Homo sapiens: one gene and its partner. The protein of the gene in region 1 purifies or fractionates together with the protein of each later gene. This does not show direct contact. Each region holds a gene or a part of one and is shown on either strand. Other genes may lie near its edges. The genes, in order: ACAD8 and P4HA2.

Region 1 (3,106 bases):
TCGGTGAAGCAACGTGAGGCTGCCTTGCTGGAAACATTATATAATGGGGCTTCCCTGCCCCTTTCACAGCACCCTTCTCAAACCTCAGCCTGTGCTGGAATCGCCTGGAGGGCATGGGAGCGCAGATTGCGGGCCTCAACCCCAGAGCTTCTGCTCCAGAGGGTCTAGTGTGGGCCTGGGAATTTGTATCTGCAACAAGTCTTCAAGTGAGGCTGCCACAGCTTGTCTGAGAACCACACTTTGAGACCCACCGCTCTGGTGTTAATGTCAGAGTCACAGGCTACCACAGGTTAGACCGCTGCTTTCTTCTGCAAACCTCATTCCAGAAAGATGTTTATGGGCTCAGTCGCCAGTGTTCAAACTGAATTCCCGAGAGTCGTTTTCCTTCCATTACTCTTGGAATTGCTTTCTCACTGAGCTTTATGTGCGTAGGAAACTTCGCCTTCATTCTAACTCTCTCTCCACCCTGCAATAATAAGCAGGAAAACATTTATTGTAGGCCACACCATCACCCACTTACAGAAGAATTGGGGCACTCATCACTGTATCACTTTGTTTCATCATGGACTTTACTGTTGGATAAATCTACAGTTTATGCTTTATTTGAGACGATGTGACTACTGATTCCTCGAGGGGGTTTATATTTCTTTTTGCATTAAAGGCCACTGCTAAAAATGAAGCAAATAATTGATACCCTCCTTTCAGGGAAAATGTTTTCATTCTTTTGTAAGTCAGTTTTCTGATTACCAAAGAAATGTGTATTTATTGTTGAAACCTTATAAAATTAGGAAAAGTAGGCTGGGTGCGGTAGCTTATGTCTATAATCGCCGCACTTTGGGAGGCTGAGGCGGGTGGATCGCGTGAGGCCAGGAGTTCGAGACCAGCTTGGCCAACCCGGTGAAGCCCCGACTGTCTAAAATTATAAAAAGTTAGCTGGGCGTGGTGGTGCATGCCTGGAATCCCAGCTACTCGAGAGGCTGAGGCAGGAAGATCGCTTGAACCCAGGAGGTGGAGGTTGCAGTGAGCTGAGATTGCACCATCGCACTCCAGCCTGGGTGACAGTGAGACTCCATCTAAAAACAATACAAAAAATTAGCCGGGCCTGGTGGGGCCTGGTGGCACATGCTTGTGGTCCCAGCTACTCAGGAGGCTGAGGCAAGAGAATTGCTTGAACCTGGGGGGCGGAGGTTGCAGTGAGCCAAGATCACACCACTGCACTCCAGCCTGGGCGACAGCAAGACTGTCTCAAAAGAAAAGTAAAAGAAAAAAAATCACTCATGTTTCTACATCCAGAATGTTATTTTGGTACATCTCCTTTTAGGCATTTTACTCTGCCTTTGTTGGTACATTTTTAATTTTAATTAGAATTATCCTGTATATACTGTTTTTATTCTGCCTTTTTAAACTTTATATAAGCATTTTTACCATCAGAAGAAGTTTTTAAAAAAGTATTATTTCCTGACATTTTTCAGTACTTTGTAGAGAAGTCTCTGATAATCTCATCTCTCCCAGGCTAAAAGCAATGATTGTAGTTTAAATCTGCAGCTACTCTGAACTAGGCCTGGAGCAGCCTGGTCAGAGCTTTACTAAACTCTCAGACTTTGCTGCTGTGAAATTCTTCCTCCTTCCTCCCTCTTACAGGTAGCAATGAAGTGATGAGGATACTGATCTCTAGAAGCCTGCTTCAGGAGTAGAACCCACACTTGTTCTGGCCTGGTGTTCAGTGCGACTGCAGTCAGTGTTGAGTGGTGCCATGTGGGCCGCTCTATTCCAAAGGAATCATGGATTAGACCCAAGGGCTGAGCTCCTCTAGGGCAGGACCTGCACCCTGTGTGTTGGCACCAGCATCGGGTCTTGGACTGGGGCAGAATCCCCAGTGGAACCGGAAGAGCTGGACTGATGAGAAACATCAGAAGAACACATACTACCTTGTTTTCCTAATGCCAGAAGGGTGACCAGTGAAGATTCACCGTCAAACCATGAAAGTCCTTTCTTGGATCCACTTTATCTTGATTAGTCTGCATTTTACTAGTTCACTGGATCCCTCCTCTAGGGGCCTGGGGACTTTCACTGATGCTCTTCCTGATTCTAGAGCAAAGGTGTGGGAAGGGGAAATGGAGGAATGCCCTCCTGTCTGTGTCGTTCTCTGTGCCACAGCTACAGATGCAGAAGGTTTCTCTGGATAGCACACCTCTGAATGTAAATCATGATAAAATGGATATTTGGAAACTTACTCCTAAGCTGTGATTTAGGGTGTATTTCTACTTCTGGACTGCCTCAATATCAAGGGCTGAGACTTTTGAATTTTGAATATTCGTTGGGTTTCATGTTAAGAAGCCTGTGGTCTAGGAGTGCTATTCAGTGTTTCTTTTCCTGATAAACACTTTGAATATTTTTTTTGTGTTTTTGTTTCCTTTTCTGAAGCTGTTCCTCCTTTTAAATATTTTTAATCACATTGATAAAATCTATCCTTCACCACCTCTGGTTCTACTATAGTTGATTTTTATTTTAAATGTTTAATTGTATTTGATTAAACACTTAACTGGATTTTGGAATAATAAAACTCTCGTCCAATTTGGCTTTTAAAAAGCAGGCTCCTTAAATTATTAATAACTTTGCAAACTAAGCATTGTTTATGATGTATGAAAGTAGAATTAAAGTGAGATTCACAGATGGGACTTCAGGAGACCTTGTTTTGTTTGTTTGTTTGCTGTTTTTTGTTGTTTTTGAGACAGAGTCTCGCTCTGTCGCCCAGGCAGGAGTGCAGTGGCACAATCTCAGCTCACTGCAACTTCTTCCTCTGGGGTTCAAGCGATTCTCCTGCCTCAGCCTCACAAGTAGCCGGGACTACAGGCGCAAGCCACCACGTCCGGCTACTTTTTGTATTTTTAGTAGAGACAGGGTTTCACCATGTTGGCCAGGCTGGTCTCAAACTCCTAGCCTCAAGTGATCTGCCCACCTCGGCCTCCCAAAGTGCTGGGATTACAAGTGTGAGCCACTGTGCCCAGCCAGGGGAGCTCTGTTATAACTTACTATGTTACTCCATCCCCTCATCCCTATTGAAAAGAATACGCAAGACATTAACTACAAGCCAATGTTTAGAGAG
Region 2 (3,818 bases), on another chromosome or scaffold:
GACACAAATAAGACAAGACATGATCTCAGGCCTCAATTTGCTGAAGAATTGGTAAGGAAGACACATGTAAACAGATAATTGTATGAAATTCTGCCAGTGGGACAAGATACATGTGTGCAGGTTGCCATGGGAATAGCACCCAAGGGCATCTAATCATGCCCTTTCATGCCCATGACCTTTGATGCCCTTTGGCTCTATTCCCATGGCAACCTGCACACATGTTTCTTGCTCTTAGAGGGAAGAGGAAATCCTAGGGCTAGAATATAAAGCTACATAGAAGTTATCCTGGGAAGAAGATGGGCATACCCAGATGGTTCTCTCACCAAGAGGGTCCCAGGAGTGACAACAGGATGAGAAAGTAATCAAGGCAGAAGCCACCCTGACGTGTGTTGGGGACTCAAGAGGCCTAATATTACTGGGAGGTGGCAGGTAGAAACTGAGAGGTAGGGTGTGAGGATGAGGAAGACTGTCAGCATTGCAGAGGGCTTGGACATTAACCTCAGGAGCCGTGGACCAGCAGATCCAGTCTGTATGCCATGGGCACAAGAGCAACAGAGCTGCTGCCAGCACTATCACCCCACGCCATATCTTCAAACACACAGGAACCATGATTCTGTTCCTCACAGACTCTCTCATAATGAATAAAAATTTTATTTCAATGCACTACTGAAGTCACAGAGCTTTTAAAATATAAAGTAATAACATGTACTTCATTGAAAAAAATAAAATTGTCGCAAGGCTTATAATGATAAATAGCACTCCTCCTAAGCCTCTCCTTCCCATCCCTAATCTCCACTCCCAGGGAACATTAAACTCCTCTAGCTGTTTCTTCTGATATTTAACCTCATTTTTCTAGATAAGATGCTTATAGTTCTATTCCTTGACTTTCAACTTTGGAATTCTTTTATTCTACCCCTAAAACACAAACTCATCCCCTCCCACCTTTCCAGTACAGGTAAATCATAAGTTTTAGTTAAAGTAATACTCAGTGTGTACATAATTATATCATGTGTTACACCTGAGCCATCTAGTAGATTATACTTACATTTCCTTTCTTGTACAACTTTTTTTCCCCTGAATTCAGCAACTGCCTTGTTTTCTTTTCCATTTGCTTAATTATCTGCAAACCTATCACTATTTATCTTCAAAACTCTCCAAGGGGGCTACACACTCATCTCCTTACAAACACTTCCTGTCATATCCTGGTTTGAGCCTCTCCGAGGCTCACCACAACTGCTCCCAGGATAAGGCTCAAGCTTGAGCCTCTGCAGTTTGGTCCCAGCCTCCAGCCTCATCTTCTGGCCCCTGTGCCACAGGCCTCCCTTTCTTCAAGTGACAAGGGAGCCAGCCCCCACACCCGTATGCTGGTTTTAGCCTGTGCCTCCATCCATATGGGCCTTGTTTGCCTGAGACACTCTTTCCCCTCACTGCTTCCAGCTCTCCACTCTGCTCCCTCAGAAGCCTTGCCAGAGGGTCCTGGACCTATGGTGCTTATGCAGCTATTCGTCCTCAGGCCTTCTTCAGCTTCCTGTGTATCTCTGAGTGTTTCCAACCAGCTGCCTTGGCATTTACCAGCTGCATGGACATTACATGGCTGGATGGTAATAACAGCAGAAAAAAACCTAAGAAGGGAGACAGTCTCAGCAAATTTGGCAGCAGTTGCCTCCCAGCTCAGAATCTAAGGCCAATAAGCAAAGCCCAAGCTGAGGCCACCAACACCAACACTACCCCTTAAGACACTCACCCCACTTGCAGCCCACAAGCACAGGGCAGGCAGCATGTCTTGTTCGGTAGTCACCTTCCCCGCTCCGCAAGAGGTTGTACCAGAACACAGCTGTACCCTGGGAAAGAGATGGCCTTTCAGAACACATTCTTAAGAGACTGTGCTCAGGGACCTGACTGCAAGCATCACAGAAGCTCTGCCCTGAGCAGAAACACCCTCATTTTCCCATGGACAGGGGATAGGGCTCTGGGACTCCAGCAACAGAGACATTTCCCAGAAAGCACCTACCTTTCTGAGGTAGAAGTCTGGGAACTCACCCGCCCCTGAAGGGACTTCCCTCCCTGTCCTTTCTTCACAGGGAGAAGCTGGGCTACCAGGTCAGACCCCAGGTGGGCTAAGGCACATCACAGTGACAATCAGGCAGGCCAGGTAATGGTACTGGGGGACATGGACAAAGTAAAGTCTGAGCCTTGCTTCAACCTCTGACCCACAAGAATCAGAACTTACCTTCTTAGGCCAAATTGCAGCCCCCAGATCAGGGAAGACGGTGGCACCACCAGCTTCTACATCACTCATCTGGAAATATAAGACATAGAGCTTGACCCTCCTACCCAAGGCTCTCAGAGCAATTGAGCCACAAAGGACATGACAAGGTATATAGATTGCCCTCCTCTCAGCATGAGTGACACTACTTGGTGTCTGCTCCATGGCCAGCCCTTTAGCCAAGAAAGGCTCTTCCCATGCCTACTTAACCAGTGTGATTCATTAGAACAGTCTCCATGTCATGAGTGTTCAAGAGTTGAGGCCCACAGGAGACCCACATCCGGGCTGTCCCTGGATGAAAATAATCTGAGTCTGTACTCAGAAAATGCCTGTTCTGACCCCACCCTTTGAATCCCCATCTAGCCTTGGCCTTGCCTAAGCCACTGTACTCTGCAAAGTGCCCTGACCAGGAGCTCTGTACTGTTTCCAACACCATGTGCAGTCCCCACTGCAGCTCTGTTTCTCTGGCTCTAGTAGTTTGCTGCTCTAGTCAGACCTTCACCTTCCCAGAGTAGCCACCCTTCCTGGGGCCAACTGAGTGGAAGGGTGGGGCACTGTGTCTCTAGAGGCCCTGCTTTCTCCTATGGTAAGGCCTTAAACTACATTGAACACAAGTTCCACACTAGCAAGGCTGTACTCATGCCCACAGAGCATGCCTTGACTCATGGCCAAAGCACTACTTCTTTCCCATCTGGCTCTCTTACTTTTTTTGTCCATAATTTAATAAAAATTGGAGGTAAAAAATATTTCCACAGGACACATACCAGACTCACTGAAGGGTACTTGACAGACATATGGTAAATGAATAAGACAAAAGCTCTGATGGCTTCTCACAGCCCTGTGGATCAAACTCAGATTCTTTTCTAGAACCCCAAGGCCCTGTCAGTCTCACTAGCCTCTCTCCAGACACACCAGCCTTTTTCTACCTTTCCAACATCCCAAGTTCCTTTTCTCTTACAGGACTACATACACTCTCTCTTCTGCCAGAAACCATGTTCTACCAGCTAATTTCCACTCAACTTTTAAGTCTCAACTGATATGTTACTTCCAAAGAGAGGCCTCCACTGAACCCCAAGCCTGGGGTTCACAGCACCTGTCTCCATAACTACATAATAATCTCTCTGATGTTTAGGCTGGGCATGGTGGCTCACGCCTGTAATGCCAGCACTTTGGGAGGCCAAGGCGGGTGGATCACTTGAGGTCAGGAGCTTGAGACCAGTCTGGCCAAGATGGTGAAACCTCATCTCTACTAAAAATACAAAAATTAGCTGGGCATGGTGGTGCACGCCTATAATCCCAGCTACTTGGGAGGCTGAGGCAGGAGAATCGCTTGAACCTGGGAGGCAGAGTTTGCAGTAAGCTGAGATAGCGCCACTGCACTCCAGCCTGGGCAACAGAGGGAGAGTCTGTCTCAAAAAAAAAAAAAAAAAAAGATAAAGAAGAATCTCTCTGATGTTTAAAATAAGTCTCTCATATTGGACCTCAAGCACAAGAGAGACCACATATGTTCTGCTCACCAGCATGTACACAGCACAATCCCCAGCATGTAATA

Evidence for each region.
Region 2: the proteins of ACAD8 (region 1) and P4HA2 fractionate together in Homo sapiens (co-fractionation; one large-scale study listed by BioGRID). This does not show direct contact.

Annotation. Positions count from the first base shown.
Region 1 is NC_000011.10:134,263,267-134,266,372, forward strand, and holds the end of ACAD8 (isobutyryl-CoA dehydrogenase, mitochondrial), read left to right. Parts: intron 1-69; coding exon of another isoform or gene 70-230; exon of another isoform or gene 231-679; intron 680-1,641; coding exon 1,642-1,694; 3' UTR 1,695-2,589; downstream 2,590-3,106.
Region 2 is NC_000005.10:132,193,182-132,196,999, forward strand, and holds part of P4HA2 (prolyl 4-hydroxylase subunit alpha-2 isoform 2 precursor), read right to left. Parts: intron 2,300-3,818; coding exon 2,231-2,299; intron 1,842-2,230; coding exon 1,745-1,841; intron 1-1,744. UniProt on the Homo sapiens protein: Catalyzes the post-translational formation of 4-hydroxyproline in -Xaa-Pro-Gly- sequences in collagens and other proteins.